Regions from separate parts of the Homo sapiens genome. Here region 2 is linked to region 1. Evidence: fine-mapped expression QTL. A gene starts in region 1. The other region holds a variant in brackets. All regions are shown on one strand. Distances are from middle to middle. Region 1 holds the start of NEDD4 (NEDD4 E3 ubiquitin protein ligase). Region 2 has its middle 22 kb from the start of NEDD4.

The links.
Region 2: its variant is fine-mapped to the expression of NEDD4 in subcutaneous fat (FUSION, PIP 0.91).

Annotation. Positions count from the first base shown.
Region 1 is chr15:55,987,437-55,998,456 of GRCh38, reverse strand. It overlaps NEDD4 (NEDD4 E3 ubiquitin protein ligase), which reads left to right and starts at 4,845. Exons shown (of 29, transcript NM_006154.4): 1 at 4,845-4,946. The coding sequence starts at 4,902. RefSeq lists silencers at 3,639-3,836, 4,623-4,722, 4,963-5,312 and an enhancer at 4,815-5,597.
Region 2 is chr15:56,011,243-56,020,578 of GRCh38, reverse strand. No RefSeq gene overlaps it. Among named protein-coding and RNA genes, the nearest start is that of NEDD4, 22 kb to the right of the region's middle. The variant TG/G (reference allele first, on the strand shown) is at 5,535.

The sequences.
Region 1 (11,020 bases):
GATCACTTGAGGCCAGGTGTTCAAAACCAGCCTAGCCAACATGGTGAAACGCTATCTCTACTAAAAATAGAAAAATTAGCCAGGCATGGTGGCACATACCAGTAATCCCAGCTACTCAGGAGACTGAGGCAAGAGAATCACCTGAACCCAGGAGGCAGAGGTTACAGTGAGCCAAGATAGCACCACTGCACTCCAAACCTGGGATTATAGGCGTAAGCCACCGTGCCCAGCCATAACAAATCTCTTTATATATCTGCATCCTATTGGTTCTGTTTCTCTAGGGAACCATAATACAGGGTCTTTAATCTGTCAGTCTGGAACAGTTCCTCCAACTTTCTTGACTTCTATGTCCTTGACACTTTTGAAGATTACAGGGCAGATATTTTGTAGTACGTTCCTTAAATTGGATTTGTTTTCTCATGATTAGATCCAAGTTATGGAGGAAAAGCAATGGGTTGCAAGATTTTGGTTTATCAAATGTTCACTTTGATCATTTGATTAAGGTGGTATATTTCAGCCTTTTAATCTATGTAACTAAGTACTTTCTGGAAATATATGTTGAACCCTGTAAAAATCTCATTTTTCATTGAACTTTGAATGTACTCATTTATTATAATTTATATCTGTAATGAACACATGGTACCAGAATTATTCATTGGATTATAATCTGTTGCTATCATAATTTATTTTAGTGCTCAAGTTAGGCCATCTTTGGCCAGTGGGAGCTTTTTTCAGGTTGGTTCCTGTGTCCTTTTATTCTGTCTCCATCATTACTTTCATTATTTTCTGGGATAACAAGATGTTTCAGGCTCAACTTTTATTTGCCTTGTCCTAGTCCTGGAATCAGCCATTTTTCCAAGGAGCCCTGGTTTCTTTTAGTAAAAAGTTAAAATATGGATGCAAGATATGCTCATTGCTTTTGGGGTGTCATTGTTCCCAGGCCCTCTTAGAATACAAATGTAGAAAATATTTGTGTGTGTGTGTGTGTGTGTGTGTGTGTGTGTGTGTATGCAGCAGAGGTTTACATCTACATTTATTTATATACTATATATATATGTTAAAAACTTTTGAGTTCATATCAACACCACCAATTTCATTATAACAACACAAGACTCATTCAAGTTTTCTCTTTCCATTCTTGTAACTTCTTCAACAGTGACTAATGTGGTTCTCATTATCATTCATATATTCACTTATTGGATCACTTGTCTCTACAAGTAACTAATTTCCCATTTCTGCCATCACCAGTCCACCAAGCAAACCCTTCCTTGAACACACCTGGGTCCCACTGCCTTGCACCTGGCCGTCTTTCTCACTACCTCCCACCCCTTGTGGGGTGAGGAGGGCATTTTAAAAGATGACCATGATACCTGAACTCTCTTCTTTACTCCTTCCTCTGCCTTGTAACCTGGAACATAGACGTAATGATTGAAGCTTGAGCCACTCTCTGGACTATGAGGATAAGGGTCACACCTACAAACATCAGAGCAGTGAGCTGTGAAGTGCCTGAATTTCTGACCCTTTGGCAGAGCAAACTAGCCATATTAACCCTGCCCTGCCCACTGTCTAGACTTTTACATGACAGCCATATAACATGAATCTTTAAATCTTATTAGTTTAGGTAACAGCCAAATGTAATTCTACTTGATAAAGATGTCCACAGCTAGAGGCCAGCGGGAACACAGATACATCTACTAATTCCAGGAGGGAGTGATGAGAACCTTTATCACCAAGATGAGGGAGCACAACAGCCTGTTAGAAGTCAGAATCCAGCTTAGCAAAAAGAGGGTCAGGCAAGACCAATGAATTGATTGGGACTATGTATTCTACTACTGGAGGCAGAAACTTAGTTCATTTCAGAAAATCAAATAAACATTTCTTGCACTACTGAGCTCTGGATCTGAGATGGGCTCTATGAAGAAAGTAGCTGAAACTATGGTAATGGCAATGGCAATGGATGAGGTCCAGGGAGTTTCCAGTGGAAGAAAAAATGAACCTTAAAAATCTCAAACATTAACTATTAGAAAGGAAGCAGCCAGGGGATATTAAGAGTAAGAGAGAATTAAAGGAGAACTTCTGAACAAGACTTTTTTATATCCCTTAGGGAATTAATTACCAACATTAAAGTGCATTTCGTATCATTACCTTTCATATTGTTACATTCCACATCCAATTTTGATCCCAGGGGGTGATATTTTAAAAACTAGAAACAATTTCTGCATCACAGTGAAATCTATAGGCAGAGTTAAAGAGGTTTACGTATACAGACTACTAGAAAGTCTAGACCAGGTTTACTGGTTTTCATTCATTTCTTGCTTCTTAATCAGTTTGGAGGCTCATGTAAAGGCAGATTTGAAGGGAGAAAAGACTCAAGAACAAGAGATAGAAGGGGTGATGCTATTGGAGGTTGCTAGAATTGCCTGGATTTTGGCTTGGGATGATCCCTAGCACAGGTATGAGGCACAGAATCAATTGTTATGCACCATGTCACATTCTTCACACGTGCCTCACATGGTTATACACACACTCAAACCAAATCAACATGAACCTAATTGAAGGCAGCCTAGGTAGACAAAACGCCTTCATGAGAGTTCTGCGCAGTTGAGTGATATGTAGAGGAGTTCTTCATTCTAAACAGCTTTCTCAGTGGTGGTTGGTTATTGGACCACCAGCTGATATCACCATCCCGATTTGAGCTTCCTTTAATTTCAGGTGCCCCTCCTAGCTGTTGACCGGGATACAATAATTACTCTAGTTCATCTTGTATTGGTAGCTGTTTAATTCTTCATGATTTCATATTCGGAAAGACAGAATAAGAAATCATGAGTCAAATCAGTGGTCTTTAGAAGTATCATCACTAATACCTATTGGATACATCAAATGGCCAATTTGCTTTACTTTATAATCCCTTGGGGATTTACTGATTTTTTTTTTTTTAATTACCAGTTTTAGGCTGTGTATACTTCTCATATATTCATTAAATTTTAGTAGCAGTAACGGAAGCTGTTTTTACACGTTTGTAATTGTGCCCTGAAATGACACTGAATTAACTTAAATTCAAATGACTTAACTAACTTAAAATTAAACATAAAAATGTGTATCATGAGAGATGAGGGAAATATTCGCAAAATAGAAGGGCACACAATATTTTCAGATTATTTTATTCTTAACCCACAAATCCCACAGATATGTGACAACTTAAAAAACAAATTAATGCTCTCATGGCTTTTTCGATTTAGGTAAGCCAACAATTCCTGACCATTCTGTAATTTTGTAGTCATGTTTGATTAAGTGCCATCTCTTTCCCCCTAATACGGATAAAATCTGAATTGTGTATTAACAGAATTTTGATACATATTATATGAATGAAATGGATCCTACCAATCATAAAGTACGACAATTGAGGTGGAGTCTTGTTCTGTCGCCCAGGCTGGAGTGCAACGGCGCAATCTTGGCTCACTGTAACCTCCTCCTCCCAAGCTCAAGCGATTCCCTTGCCTCAGCCACCCAAGCAGCTGGGACTCCAGGCGCCCGCCACCACGCCCAGCTAATTTTTGTGTTTTTAGTAGAGACAGGGTTTTACTATGTTGGCCAGGTTGGGCTCGAACTCCTGACCTAAGGTGATTCACCGCCTTAGGTTTCCCAAAGTGCTGGGATTACAGGCGTGAGCCACCGCGCCCGGCCAAGTACGAGAAAAATCTTACGTAACAAACCAGTAATATGGGCTATAGCCTTGTTCCCACGTAGCATCTTAAACTGTTAAAAATAAATCAGAGTTATTCTGAAATCATTGAGGAAAATAAAAATTAGATTTTGAGATTGCAGAATTCTGCAAATTTCTGCAAATGTATAAAAACAACATGATATAAATTGTGGCCTGGGTGTTCATAATTCTCCCCAGACTCTTTTATGGATGCCTTATTTGGTGGAGGTCTTCCTGTAATTATGGAATTATAAAGCCCATCAGACAGGAATATTAAAAAGCATGATTATTCCATAACCTTATTCCACAGGAGGAGTTATTCCACAGGAGGAGTTATTCTACAGGAGGTCCTAGTTCACTTTATTTTTCCCTCTTCGTCACTGCCTTCTGGTGGTGCTGCGGATCAACGCCCAGCTAAAGCAGGTTTAGAGGGTCAGCCTGGAGATTGGATTGTTACTGGTGGGATTTAAAGATGGACAGACCATAGGACAACAAATAGCTTAGGAACTGGCACTGTTTACAAATCCTAGGGAGAGAATTTCAGATCCCGAGTCCAAGACTGCTGCGATCCCTCCAGGCCTCCCCATTTGCTGCCACGCTCAGGCTTTCCCTGGCGGTCCCCAGGTCCAGCTTCTTATGGGAATGACACCCTTAACCGACAAGAAAGCGCTATGATTTTCCGTTTGGGATTTAAGCGGGGATTAAGCTCACGGATTCCCAGGCGTCTAGTCAGAGGCCGAACTCTGGGTCGGATCTCAGCGAGACTTGTTGCTGAGGAACACTGCAGCTTGGCTTCCCGGCGCTTCCCGGCGCTCCCTGGCTCCCCGGCGGGCCCGTCAACCACCCACCTCCCGGGAAGGGACCGAGGGCGCGCCCCGCCACGCGCGCTCCCCACGCCATGGTCCCCGCCGCGCGCGCTCATCCCACCCGAGCCCCGCCGCACGCCCTCCCCACTCCCCGAGCCCCGCCACGCGCGCCCCCGCCCAGCCCCAGGAGCGCGCGCCGCCGGCCTTTTCCCGCCGCGCTGCCGGGTGCCGCTAGTGCCCGCTCGCCGCGGGAGGCGCTGCTGTCGCTGAGGGAGCGCCTCCTCCTCTTCCTCCAACTCTTCCCCGCCTCCTCCCGCTTCTCCTCCTCCTCCTCCACAGTTGCCTGCCCTGGGCGGGGGCGAGCGCGTCCGGTTTGCTGGAAGCGTTCGGAAATGGCAACTTGCGCGGTGGAGGTGTTCGGGCTCCTGGAGGACGAGGTGCGGGGACCGCGGGGCTGCGGGGCGGGCTTCCCTTCGGGTTATTCAGCAGCCGGACCCGGGGAGGTAGCGGCGGCGGCCACGACCGGAGGCTCTGCTGTCAGCCCCTCCTCCCTCGGCGCGAGCCTGGGGAGCGCGCGAGGCGCCGCGGGGACTGTGGGGGCGGCTCGGCGCGCGGGCGCTGGGGGCTCGCTGGAGGGAGCAAGCTTGTCGGGTCCACACCCGCCCCTTCCCGGAGCGGCCGCCGCCTTACTTGTCAGTTTCCTTCAGGAAGTGTTGAGGAGGGGGCTAGGCGGTCGGCGGGGGACCCACATCACCGCGCCAGCCCCTTCCTGCCACCCCCGCCGGGTGTGCGGAGCTCCCAGGCGTTGGGAGACGGTCGCAGCATCCCCGCTGTTGATTTGCTTGCTCTGGCGGAGGCCGGGCCGACTTAACTTTACGGACTTCGGTCTGGAGAGTTCCAAGTGAATTGTCATTCGCTGGTTTGTTTTTTTCTTCTTTATCTGAAATCCTTTTTAATCCCCTAACTAGAGACAGGGATGGGAGAGCAGGAACATAAATTTTCCTCCTCCTCTTTAGCAACAAGTGTCTAGTGTGAGAAGTTCATGCTTTATTTCACCGGTCGTCGTTGATGTTAAAAAGTGAAGCCAAAAAAGTATAAATACTTTATAAAGAAGTTACCACATCTGTTCCCTTTGAAAACTAGATTAAGCTCTGGGATTTGAAGAAGGCAAAGCTGTTTCTTTTCAGCTAAATAACTAATGCTGATTATGCCTATGCTTATTAAAAATATTGTACGACCATTTGGAAAGGTTGTTCCGTCGTAAATGATATGTGGCTTCTGTGTGTTCTTGGAGATTGTCTCAAAAATGCAAATGGGTGGGAGATGAAAAGGCTGCATGTAGTCTAACAGTGACTGGTTCCGAGTGAAAAAAATCAAGTTTTTTGCTTTCTTGTTGGCTGACTAAGCTGCCACATGTACCTTTTATCAAGATGAGACCCAGTTAACTGAAAATCCATCAACCTAATTTATACTGCTTGCTTAAGTATTGTAATATTTAAGTTGTATAGTTCCTTCTCTTAGTACCTTGGTGTCGTCAAACATTTTACACTTCTCTTGAGAGTTCTTTGTTTATAAAGGGTGGGCAATTTGTTAATGCAGTTATTTCAGGATATTTTGAGAATGCTTACGTGATGCGATTAGAATTTAATTTCCTAGCTATTGCTGCCAGAAGAGAAATAAAGTGATGATGGACAAATGGTGGCGGCTCATAGTCCCTCAGAAACAATAGTCAATGTGTTACAGCTAAAGATATCATTCTAGCTAATGGCACCTTTATTCTGTAGACGAGATCAGAAGATAATACAGCACTTCACCTGTGGTCGCTTTCTTATCAGTCAGATTTCCCTGCTTGCTACGTAGACTGCCCAGTGCAGTTGACTTCAAGGTGGTGTCCAACCCAATCAGGCTGACCTTGGACTTTCTTTCCCTGCTATATTCACAGGTAGGCCCTGCTAATTGCAGATTTCTCATCTCACCGCCTTCCAGCAGAGCCAGTTGATCTTAAAGAAAATAGTGCCAAAGGTATCATTCACCATCTGTTTTCTCCCTCTTGGTACATGATCAGTGTTTTTAATTATCTACTTTAGTAATTTCTCTGTTTTCAATCATCACCCCTCTGCCCAGCTGAAATAAAACTAATTGTGGCAGTTAATGGGTGGTCGGTAAGGAACTGGGGCCAAAGGCCAGAAACTCCACCCTTTGAAATGTGGATTTCCTGAACTTGCTGAAGGATTTGTACTTCTAGGAAGTTTCATGGACTGTGGCCTATCCCATTCACATTCTGGGAGTTCTGGCTGTCAGTTCCATGACTCTAATTTGCTTCTGTCCCCGCTCTATTTTGTCCACATTGAGGAAGGGAGTGAGATAGGAAGATAAGAGACATGATGATGAAGAGTCTTCCACTTCTTCCATTGTAATTGGATTATTCATTCAACAGACATTCATTTACTGTTTGCTCTGTACCATGCATTGTGCTAGGCACCAGGGATAGAGAGGGAAAAAAGACAGTCTCAGCCTCGGACTGAGGGAAAGATAAAAGTCACTTTTTTTCTTGTGGAGGTTGCCCTCTCCACTATCATTTGCCATTTATTTTCTGGTCTATCACAAAAGTAAAAGAAGGATTGAAACCACACTCCCCCATCCTCCCCACCCCCAAACACCCCTTTTGTTAAAGGAAGAAAGCATTGCAGCTATGTCACTTCTAAAACTCACAGACTAGTCTGGAAATAGGCAGCCCTCTGCTGTTGATTAAAAGTAAAGTGCTTTTTCATTACAACAAAAGGAGAGGATTCTTATTTTAAATTTGAAACTAAAACAGGGAGAAAAATAATTTGAAATGGGATAGAAGATAGTGAAAGAATTGTAATTTAATCAGTATATAGTGAATAGTCGCTGAGTCAGTGTCTGAGCATATTAGCACTGAAGTATGCTAAAATGTAGATCATAATACCTTTCTCTCACTTTTCAGTGAGTTTTGGCTCTTCTTCCACATATAAGTGACTTATAGTAAGAGATCACCCTGGCTGCATGTGCAGGATTTTACCTTTAAAGTGTTAACAAACAAAGGAGGAAGTGTAGTATAATTTATACCAGATTTGCTCTGGTCACTTGAGATTCACAGTAGAGAATAACATGCACTGATCTTTATTGGAGAGCAGTGTGGTGGATGCGGGGACTGGAATTGAGCATCACTTCCCACCTCCTTCCCATGCACCTCCCTGTGATATGGAGGTGGGAAAACTAAACACTGTTTCCCACACTCCATTGAAATTAATGGACTGGATCCAAAGTAGGCTCCCCAGTTAAGTGCACTTACTTGAGATTTGCAGAGTGGAAATGAGGTGGAGCATATTGTTTTGTTTCTTTGGCTTTTTCTGCTGATAAGCACAGTCATGTAAACATCTAAATTTTCTGCGAAAGTATTCCAGTATCTGGTAACTTGCTTTGTACATATTGATAGGAAGTCACCGAAGTAGTGGTGGTAGTGGCTTCCAGACGTCAAGATTGATTATATTCTTGAAGTCATCAGTTCTGGTGATGACTCCTGATCATCTACCTTTCTGACTGGGAGAGGTAGTAGCTTCCTGGATGGGTCAGTTCTGCCATGTTTCTGATCTTCTAGAACTGCAGTCCCCAACTGTTTTGGCACCAGGGACCGGTTTCATGGAAGATAGTTTTTCCATGGACCGGGGATGCGGTCCAGTGGTTTCAGGATGATTCAAGCACATTACATGTATGGTGCACTCTACTTCTATTATGATTACATTGTGATATGTAATGAAGTAATTATACAGCTCACCGTAATGTAGAATTAGTGGGAGCCCTGAGCTTGTTTTCCTGCAACTAGATGGTCCCAAGTGTGGGTGACGGTAATGGGAGACAGGGAGACAGTGACAAATCATCAGGCATTAGATTCTTATAAGGGGTACACAACCTAGATCGCTTGCATGGACAGTTCACAATAGGGTTCATGCTCTTATGAGAATCTAATGCCGCTGCTGATCTGACAGGCAGCAGAGCTCCGGAGGTAATGTGATCGGTGAGGAGTGGCTGTAAATACAGATGAAGCTTTGCTCACTGGCCTGCCACTCACCTCCTGCTGTGTGGCTGGTTCCTAAGGTTGGGGACCCCTGCTCTAGAAGTCCAGCCTAGCACCTACTCTTCCAGCTCTTCCAAAAATTTTGTAAGCATCTAATCCCCTGTATTAGCTTCTTTCTTCTTAAAGCATCTAGAATGATTTCTGTTTCCTATAAGAAAGGCTGACTGAAGCAAGGAAAAGAAGGAAGGAAATAAAGAGGAAAGAGTTCAGAGTCTCCGCTATCGGTATGGAGAGTGCAGTTTGCACATACAGAATAATAGATGCCCCTGGTGGCAGCAGCCACAACAGTGCATAAGTAGCAGGGTAAGAAGGGCATATTCTGATACTTCTGGACCCACTAAGGCTGAGCAGAAACTGACCCTTACTCAGTCTGGGAACAAACTTCCCAAACCTTTATGTACTACACACAAAGGAGGAGAAGCATAGGTTAAGCAGCAGCTGTATTAGTAATTTCTCCCAATCTTTCATGTATTGTTTTTGCCATTAGTGCTTTTTTGCAACTCTTTAATTCCAGGATCATTGTAAAGTATTTTTCATGGAGCAGGGACTAAAGAAGTGAATAAATATAGTGTATTTTTAAAATAATTTATTTTTAAATTATGTATTTACTTTTGAGACGGAGTCTTGCTCTGTCACACAGGCTGGAGTGCAATGGCGTGATCTCAGCTCACTGCACCCTCTGCCTACCAGGTTCCAGCGATTTTCCTGCATCACCCTCCAGGGTAGCTGGGATTATAGGCACGCACCACCACGCCCAGCTAATTTTTGTATTTTTGGTAGAGATGGGGTTTTACCATGTTGGCCAGGCTGGTCTCGAACTCCTGACCTCAGATGATCCGCCTGCCTCGGCCTTCCAAAGTGCTGGGATTATAGGCGTGAGGCACCGCGCCCGTCCTATTTTAAAATTATTTTAAACCATCAGAAAAGTTGAAAGTACAACACAAAGAGCTCCAGTATTCTTCTCATACAGATTCTGCAACTGTTAACCTTTTCACTGCAATTGTTCCATCACCTTTTTTTGCCATTTTCATTAATCTTTTTCTGAACCACTTGAGAGCAAGCTGCAGACACAATGCCCCATCATCTTTAAATACTCTAGTGTGTATTTTTCTAAAACAAGAATACTTTCCTGCATAACAACCATACCCCCTTCCAAGCTAGGAAATGGACACTGATACAACAATGCCATTCAATCCACAGATACCATCCAAATTTTGATAAATGTTACTAATAATTTCTCTTTTTCCTTTTCTGGTCTAAGAACCTATCTGGGAACATATATTGCTTTTACGTGGCATGTCTTTGCAGTCTCTTCTAATCTGTAACATTTCCTCAGTTTTTCTTTTTTTTTTTTTTTTTTTAATTTTTTTTTTTATTATACTCTAAGTTTTAGTGTACATGTGCACATTGCGCAGGTTAGTTACATATGTATACATGTGCCATGCTGGTGTGCTGCACCCACTAACGTGTCATCTAGCATTAGGTATATCTCCCAATGCTATCCCTCCCCCCTCCCCCGACCCCACCACAGTCCCCAGAGTGTGATATTCCCCTTCCTGTGTCCAAGTGATCTCATTGTTCAATTCCCACCTATGAGTGAGAATATGCGGTGTTTGGTTTTTTGTTCTTGCGATAGTTTACTGAGAATGATGGTTTCCAATTTCATCCATGTCCCTACAAAGGACATGAACTCATCATTTTTTATGGCTGCATAGTATTCCATGGTGTATATGTGCCACATTTTCTTAATCCAGTCTATCATTGTTGGACATTTGGGTTGGTTCCAAGTCTTTGCTATTGTGAATAGTGCCGCAATAAACATACGTGTGCAATGACTTTCTTCACAGAATTGGAAAAAACTACTTTAAAGTTCATATGGAACCAAAAAAGAGCCCGCATCGCCAAGTCAATCCTAAGCCAAAAGAACAAAGCTGGAGGCATCACACTACCTGACTTCAAACTATACTACAAGGCTACAGTAACCAAAACAGCATGGTACTGGTACCAAAACAGAGATATAGATCAATGGAACAGAACAGAGCCCTCAGAAATAATGCCACATATCTACAACTATCTGATCTTTGACAAACCTGAGAAAAACAAGCAATGGGGAAAGGATTCCCTATTTAATAAATGGTGCTGGGAAAACTGGCTAGCCATATGTAGAAAGCTGAAACTGGATCCCTTCCTTACACCTTATACAAAAATCAATTCAAGATGGATTAAAGATTTAAACGTTAGACCTAAAACCATAAAAACCCTAGAAGAAAACCTAGGCATTACCATTCAGGACATAGGCGTGGGCAAGGACTTCATGTCCAAAACACCAAAAGCAATGGCAACAAAAGCCAAAATTGACAAATGGGATCTAATTAAACTAAAGAGCTTCTGCACAGCAAAAGAAACTACCAT
Region 2 (9,336 bases), 23 kb before region 1:
GAGATTTCTCAAAAAACTGAAAACAAAAGTACCATTTGACCCAGCAATCCCATTACTGGGTATCTATCTAAAAGAAAATAAATCATTCTACCAAAAGACATATGCATCTATATGTTCATCGCAGCACTATTCACAATAACAAAGACATGGGATCAACCTAGGTGCCCATCAGTGGTGGACGGGATAAAGAAAATGTGGTACATACACAACAGAAACATTACGGAGTCATAAAAAAAAATGAAATCATGTCCTTTGCAGCAGCATGGATGTAGCCATTATCCTAAGTGAATTAACGCAGGAACAGAAAGCCAAATACCGCGTTCTCACTTATAAGTGTGAGCCAAATATTGGGTACTCATGGACACACAGATGGCAACAATACAAACAGGACTACTTGGGGTGGGAGTGGACAATGGTTGAAAAACTAAATTATTTTTTAAAGAATGTTCATTTTTCATTTCACGGAATTCTAAAAATGTGCCAGGTATAATTAACAGCTGTTAATTAGATTCAACTGTGCTCCTTTTCCTTTCTTTTGATTACAGCGCCCCTCTTCGCAGTAAGGAGTCTGTTCATGCAGTTCAGGTGGGGCTAACACGCTTGCACCTGCCCTAGATGAGGGAATGGGTACAAGAAAGCCCAATCAGACTATTCTCTTAGATTAAATACATAGAGCTTGGGAGATAAAGGGTTTATCTTATGGGCTTGGGGGTAAACTAAGAATTACATAGACTTGGGACTACTGGTAGCTGTTGTGCTGCTGAGTAGAGAGAACCTCTTCAAGAACAAAGCCATGAAGAGACAACAGAGGGATGGAAAAAAGAGAGACCTGAAACTCTCAGATCTAGTCATTCCTGGAATCAGATTTACCTCCTTGGACTTTCCAGGTATATCCAGCAACATACAATTGATTCTTATTGTATTAGTCAGGGTTCTCCAGGGGGACAGAACTAATAGGATGGATGTAGATGTATACATGAAAGGGAGTTTCTTAAGGAGAATTGACTCACACGATCACAATGCGAAGTCCATGATAGGCTGTCTCCAAGCTGAGAAAGAAGGAAGCCAGTAGTGGCTCAGTCCGAGTCCAAAAGTCTCAAAAGTAGGGAAACTGACAGTGCAGCCGACAGAGCCCCCGGCAAAACGCTGGTGTAAGTCCAAGAGTCCCCGAAGAACCTGGAGTCTGATGTCCAACGGCAGGAAGCATCCAGCATGGGAAAAAGATGAAAGTTAGAAAACTCAGCAAGCCAGCTTATCCCACCTTCCTCTGCTTGCTTCGTTCTAGCCTCTCTGGCAGCCAATTGGATGGTGCCCACCCACATGGAGGGTGGGTCTTCCTCTCCCAGTCCGCTGACTCAAATGTTAATCTCCTCTGGCAACACCCTCACAGACACACCCAGAAACAATACTTTACCAGTTATGTAGGCATCCTTCAATCAAGTTGACCCCTAATATTAACCACCACACTCATTATTCATGGATTCTGTATTTGCAAATTTACTTACCTACTAAAGCGTATTTGTAACCCCCAGATTAATACTCTTGAAACTATAAGGGAGTTTTAAACCTTCCCCCTACTTTCTGAAGGTTTGATAATTTGAGTCTCTGGAATAAACTGACAGCATACAGATTAACAAGAGAAAAGGCATACAGTTTTATTATGTGCATGCACGTGGGAGCCTCACAAATTATAAGATTCAAAGAAGGGGTAGATGGTCAAAGTTTTTATAGCATCCTGAGCTATAGAAGGAAATAGGGGCTTGAGGCTTCTGTGGGGAGGTGGTGACAGGTTATGAGAGGGTGAGAGGAGGAAATTTATAGTGAACAAAGTTGTCTTGTTATACAGAGAAAATATCTCAAGTAGCAACCCTCAGAACAGTTGGGCTGGGGGCAGTGGCTCATGTCTGTAATCCCAGCATTTGGGGCTGAGGCAGCCAGATCGCTTGAGGTCAGAAGTTTGAGATCAGCTTGGGCAACATGGAAAAACCCCACATGCCTACAAAAAAAGAAAAAAAAAATAGCTGGGTGTGGAGGCACATGCCATGGTCCCAGCTACTCAAGAGGCTGAGGCAGGAGGACCCCTTCAGCGTGGGAGCTCAAGGCTGCAGTAAGCCACAATAGTGCCACTGCACTCCAGCCTGGGTGATAGGAATGAGACCCTATCTCAAAAAAAAAAAAAAAAAAATACAGGAAGAAGAAGAATAGGTGGCAACTTTTGACAAAGTCTATCTGGGCAAGGTACCAACCTTTAGTCTCCTCTCCTGTGATATAATTAATCTTCCCTAGCTAATGAGATTGCAGAGAGGGGACAAATGAGTCCCTTTTGGAGGATCCATTTTTAGGCAAGTAAGGGAAATTCAGAGAGAGCTCCCTCTTGCTCTTCAGGAGAGAAGGACAAGAGACAAGAGCACAGGAGAAAGTCAGTGAGACCTTGGTTCAACTTCAGTTCAAAGCACTCAGCATGCCACAGTGCCATACTATGGGGTATTGTTTTCTGAGCCCCAACAGTGCTTTCACAATCATTCACTGACATGTATGTACAGAGTAGTGAAAAATTTGAGTCACCTGATGTGCATGTTTCCAGCTGAGGTTCAACAAGACGTCTGCTGTCTTGCTTCACCTCTCACACTGTAAACAAATGTCCTTTTTGCAATCTATTTAGTGCCACGTTTTTCACATTTTGTGCTTTTCGTTGTTTTCACTGTTTAAAATGGCCCTGGAGCTTAGTGCTAAAGTGCTGTTTTGGTTAGCGTTCCTGAATACTAGGCTGAGATGTGCCTTACAGAGAAAATATATGGGTTAGATAAGCTTTGTTCAGGCATGAGTTAGCATGTTGGTAGTTCAGTGTTAATGAATCAACAATACGCATTAAATGAGATGTCTTTAAGCCAAAACACACATAAAACAAGGTTATGTATTGATCCATTGATGAGAATATTGTGACCGGAGGCTCCCTGGAACCTAACCTTTTAAGTCTTCTGGGAGTAATGGTTCAGTATTCACTAATGCAGTGTTTATGGCAACTTGATAGAACATAACTACTGCACGTAATGAAAACTGACTGTATTCTCCTTTTGCTTAAGTTAGTTTGAGTTGGAAGAAGAGGCACATAATGTAGTAAGGGGCTGAGGGAAGGCTTTATGAAAGAAATGACTTTTAAGTGAGTAGCATTTTACCAGGAAAGAGAGTGGGAGAAGAGAATTCCAGGCTAAGAAAATAGTCTGAACAAAGATCTTAGGGTGACAAGGAGCAAGGCATGTTTGATGATCCAAAAGAAAGCCAGTGCAGTTGGACCACAAAAATCAAGGGAATAATAATGTGAGAATTTAAAGAAGGTAGAAAAAATATATATATAGTGGATATTCTTGGTGCCTACCTGTAATCAATTTCCCACACCTTCCTTCTCATAGATCCCCAATTTTGTTCTGGTATCCATCCTTATCCAACCTTTGGGATTAGGGAAAGCTAACACCATCCTCAGCTCACAAAGTAAGGACTGGTTAAGGTAAACTAACCATGTAATCTCATCCCTGGCCAGCAAATGGTTTAGGAATGGGAATGTACCTCAGTGTTGGCCAATAAAATTTGAGCTACTAATAGCTTTTGGGAAAGTTCTTTATATTTGAGTGATAATAATGGAAAGTAGATCTCACTGTTCCATATTGAATGTAAGCAAAGAAACCTGTTGCTTAATTTGTGTCCTTGAGGGAAGCCAGCCTGAGAACAAAACCTACACGTGGAGAATGGACTCGCAAACACTGCAAGAAAATCAGGCTAGAACTTTGATTATGTTGAAACTGCCTTTGCAAAATTATGACAGTAAGAGAAATCTGACATAGTTGATTCCATCTTGCTTCTGACCTCCAAGCTATCCTCGGTCTTTCCTGGGTGTGGGCCAAGCTAACCATGGGGAGAATTTAGTTTATAGTTTAACCTTAAAGCAGGGATAATAACAGCCCTTCCCAAAACTAAACTGCATCTGTAAAACGAATAAAAAGCCACAAGCTTCGGATTATGAGAGGGTGCTGAACTCTGCTAAAATGTAGGCATAGTTTCTAATCCCTTACTGCTCAGGAGTCATGTGACCAGAGGTCACAAGATTTGTGACCTTCCCAATTGCTCCTATATAACATCACTATTACAGAACCTATAATTAGTTTGAGATGTTTTTCAGATGGACTCCACCTGAACTCATGACTCAATGAATCCTGTGGCCCCACCCAGAGGCAGACTCAGCCCATGAGGACTATTTTCCACACCCCTACGATTTCATCCCCAACCAATCAGCAGCACCTACTCCCTAAAAACTCCCAACCTCCAAATCTTCAGAGACTGATTTGAGCCCAGTTCTCCCTCATGGGCTTGCCTCATGTCAATTAAACTCTTTCTCTACTGCAGTGCTGCCATCTCAGTGGATTGATTTTGTCTGTGCAGTGGAGAGGAAGAACCTGTCCGGCAATGACTATATGGTACCTGAAGTCTGCATATATCAAGACATTTGGTTATATAAGCCACCTTCACTGTTTAAGGAGTGGAGTTGGTTTTCTGTTAATTGAGGTGGAAAGCCTCTTAACTAAAACAATAGGTGTCCAGGTTCAGTCCCCTAAGTGATACATCTAAGATGAATGCAACTGGATGGCGGATTGGGAGCTCTGGTGAGCAAGTTATTGAAGCCACCTGATATGGCTTGGCTGTGTCCCCACCCAAGTCTCAACTTGAATTGTATCTCCCAGAATTCCCATGTGTTGTGGGAGGGACCCAGGGGAAGGTAACTTAATCATGGGGGCTGGTCTTTCCCATGCTATTCTCATGATAGTGAATAAGTCTCATGAGATATGATGGGTTTATCAGGGGTTTCCGCTTTTGCTTTTTCATCATTTTTTCTCTTTTCACTGCCATGTAAGAAGTGCCTTTCACCTCCCACCATGATTCTGAGGCCTCCCCAGCCATTTGGAATTGTAAGTCCAATTAAACATCTTTTTCTTTCCAGTCTAGGGTATGTCTTATAAGCAGCATGAAAGTGGACTAATACAGTAAATTGGGACCAGTAGTGTGTGGCATTGCTGAAAAGACACCTAAAAATGTGGAAGCGACTTTGGAACTGGGTAACACAAAGAGGTTGGAACAGTTTGGAGGGCTCAGAAGAAGACAGGAAAATGTGGGAAAGTTTGGAACCTCCTAGAGACTTGTTGAATGGCTTTGAAAAAAAGGCTGATAGTGATATGAACAATAAGGTCCAGGCTGACGTGGTCTCAGATGGAGATGAGGAACTTGTTGGAACTGGAGCAAAGGTGACTCTTGTTATGTTTTAGCAGAGACTGGTGGCATTTTGCCCCTGCCCTAGAGATTTGTGGAACTTTGAAATTGAGAGAGATGATTTAGGGTACCTGGTGGAAGAAATTTCTAAGCAGCAAAGCATTCAAAACGTGACTTGGGTGCTGTTAAAAGCATTCTGTTTTAAAACAGAAACAGAGCATAGAAGTTCAGGAAATTTGCAGCCTGACAATGCAGAAAAGAAAAACCCATTTTTTTTT[TG/G]AGGAGAAATTCAAGCCAGCTGCAGAAATTTGCATAAGTAGCACAGAGCTTCATGTTAATCCCCAAGATCATGAGGAAAATGTCTCTCAGTTGATGTCAGAGACTTCACAGCAGCCCCTCCCATCACAGGCCCGGAGGCCCAGGAGGGAAAAATGGTTTAGTGGGCCAGACCCAGGGTCTCTGTGCTGTGTTGCAGCCTAGGGACTTGGTGCTCTGTGTCCCAGCTGCTCCAGACATTGCTGAAAGGGGCCAACACAGAGCTTGGTCTGTGGCTTCAGAGGGTGAAAGCCTCAAGCCTTAGCAGCTTCCACATGGTTTTGAGCGTGCGGGTTCACAGACGTCAAGAATTGAGGTTTGAGAACCTCTGCCTAGATTTCAGAAGATGTATGGAAATGCCTGGACGCCCAGGCAGAAGTTTGCTGCAGGGGTGGGGCTCTCATGGAGAACCTCTACTAGGGCAGTGCAGAAGGAAAATGTGGGGTTGGAGCCCCCACACAGAGTCCCTACTGGGGCACTGCCTAGTGGAGCTGTGAGAAGAGGGCCACCATCCTCCAGACCCCAGAATGGTAGATCCACTGACAGATTGCACTGTGCACCTGGAAAAGCTGCAGACACTCAATGCCAGCCTGTGAAAGCAGCCAGGAGGGAGGCTGTACCCTGAAAAGCTACAGGGGCAGAGCTGCCCAAGACCATGGGAGCCCACCTCTTGCATCAGCATGACCTCAATGTGAGACCTGGAGTCAAAGGAGATCATTTTGGAGCTTTAAAATTTGACTGCCCCACTGGATTTCAGACTTGCATGGGCCCTGTAATCCCTTTGTTTTGGCCAATTTCTTCCATTTGGAATGGCTGTATTTACCCAATACCTGTACCCCCATTGTATTCAGGAAGTAACTAGCTTGCTTTTGATTTTCCAGGCTCATAGGCGGAAAGGACTTACTTGCCTTGTCTCAGATGAGACTTTGGACTGTGGACTTTTGGGTTAATGCTGAAATAAGTTAAGTTTGGGGGACTGTTGGGAAGGCATGATTGGTTTTGAAATGTGAGGACATGAGATTTGGAGGGGCCAGGGGTGGAATGATATGGTTTGGCTGTGTCCCCACCCAAATCTCAACTTGAATTTTATTTCCCAGAATTCCCACATATTGTGGGAGGGACCCAGTGGGAGGAGGTAATTGAATCATGGGGGCTGGTCTTTCCAGTGCTATTCTCATGATAGTGAATAAGTCTCATGAGATCTAATGGGTTTATCAGGGTTTCCGCTTTTGCTTTTTCCTCATTTTTTGTCTTACTCCCACCATGTAAGAAGTGCCTTTCACCTCGTGCCATGATTCTGAGGCCTCCCCAGCCATGTGGAAGTGTAAGTCCAATTAAACCTCTTTTTCTTCCCAGTCTCAGGCATGTCTTTATCAGCAGCATGAAAACAGACTAATATACCACCCTCAGGGGCTTTACAAGAAATCTGGACAGAAATAATTATAATCAAGCGGTAATCAGTCTGCATGTTGACCCACTTCCTTGTTACTGAAAGTCATATCACACTAGATACTGGCCATCTGCACCCCCATTATACCTATAAATAGGATTCCTGGCCCTAGAATCATACAGCTTTTGTTTAAGATAGATATGATTTCTGACATTAGAGTCCTAACACTTTAAGAATTGCTTAAGCAGATCCTGAATTCCAGCAGAACAGCTGATGCCAAGCAGTTCAAGACCCTCATAGGGTAACTCAATCAGCATCAACATGAGAATATCATTTCTTCATCTTGTACCATGACTTCATCTTGTACTCTTCAACCAAGCAACAATCGTCACTCCTTGGCTCACTCCAAAACCCTTATAAACTCTAGCCCCAAACTCCTCAGGGAGTTTGAAGTTTCCTTCCATCTCCTCATATGGCAGCCCTACAATTAAAACTCTTTCTTTGCTGCAACCTGGTGTCTTGGCAAATTGGCTTACCATGCACATCAGGCAACAGACCTATTACAGTCATGTAACAACCAGACAATCTAGTTTGGTGTTACATGTTGTGTTTATTTCCCTTTGGTTATTCGTTATTGCCTAGCCTTTAGTAAAGTCTTTTTTTTTTTTTTTTGGAGACAGGGTCTTACCCTGTTGCCCAGGCTGGGGTATAGTGTTGCCATCACAGCTCACTGCAGCCTTGACCTCTGAGCTCAACCACTCCTCCCACCTCACCTGAGTAGCTGGGACTACAGATGCACACCACCACAGTCAGGTAATCTTAAAAAAATTATTTGTAGAGATGAGGTCTTACTATGTTGCCCAGGCTGGTCTCAAATTCCTGGGCTCAAGTGATCCTCCTGTCTTGGCCTCCCAAAATGCTGGGATTACAGGTTTGAACCACTGCACCTAACCCAGTAAAGACTTGTGTACACCATGAGCAATTGAAGTTTTCCTTGCCCATGAGATTATACTGAGAGTGACTTTAATGATTATTCCAGGCTCTAGAGAAATTCAAAGCAATCCCTCAGATTTCTTTGAACTCTACATGTGCTCATGTTTATATGTTCATTACTACTAGCTCTGGTTCAGTTTATGGGTCATCTCACTCTCTAGTGTATATTGAACTCTATGCTGTCTGTTGAACATCATACCAACCTTTACATGAAACATACCCTTCTATTCAAGATCCACACATACATGAAAGAGATATTTATGTTTAATAAATGTGATCAAATATTTTGGGGACAGATAAGGGACTTATATTGTAAAAATGCCAAGAAATTTAATGTTAAACACCCTTATTCTTTTTTTTTTTTTTTTTTTTGAGATGGAGTCTCACTCTGTCACCCAGGCTGGAGTGCAGTGGCGCAGTCTCACCTCACTGCAAGCTCCGCCTCCCGGGTTCACACCATTCTCCTTCCTGCCTCAGCCTCACGAGTAGCTGGGACTACAGGCGCCCGCCACCATGCCCAGCAAATTTTCTGTATTTTTAGTAGAGACGGGGTTTCACCGTGTTAGCCAGGATGGTCTCGATCTCCTAACCTCATGATCCGCCCGCCTCGGCCTCCCAAAGTGCTGAGATTACAGGCTTGAGCCACCGCGCCCGGCCTATTTCAAACAAATAAACAAAACCCACTACCTATCCAGTGTATGATAAGAAAACAAAAAACAACTTGGCATAGCCTATTGGGAATACTTAGAGAATCACAGAATTTTAGAATAAGAGGGCATTCCCTCACCATATGTTTTAGGTGATGCCAAAGGATATAAAAGTTTTTATTGCAGAATAGATACAAAAGTATTGACTGCAAATGTAATTTTTTTCTCTGTGTTAAACATTGAGCTTTTTTGATCAATTTTGTGTATAGAAATGTCTTCCCTATTATGTGAAAAAGTCACATGAAACAATGTAAACTCTATACAACCCAATTGACATCCATAGGGGAATAGCTTTAATAAATTGTGCTATATTGATATTGTATTTTTTCTTAAAGCTGCTGAAATGTATTAATTAGATGAGTATGCAACACAGCATAACAAGACAAAGTGTGGAAGGGAAAAAGCAAGTTGTAGAACAATGTATATACTGTTTACTGTAGTGAATTGTGCACATCAAACTTAAAACAACGGCTACTTCTGGCACAGGGGAGGGTACTAGGATTTGGGGAATTCAAATAAAAAATGACTTTAGCCTTATTTATAATATATTAATTTTTAAAAGAATAGTGCTAGCCGGGCACAGTGGTTCACGCCTGTAATCCAAGCACTTTGGGAGGCTGAGGCGGGCGGATCACGAGGTCAAGAGATCAAAACCATCCTGGCCAACATGGTGAA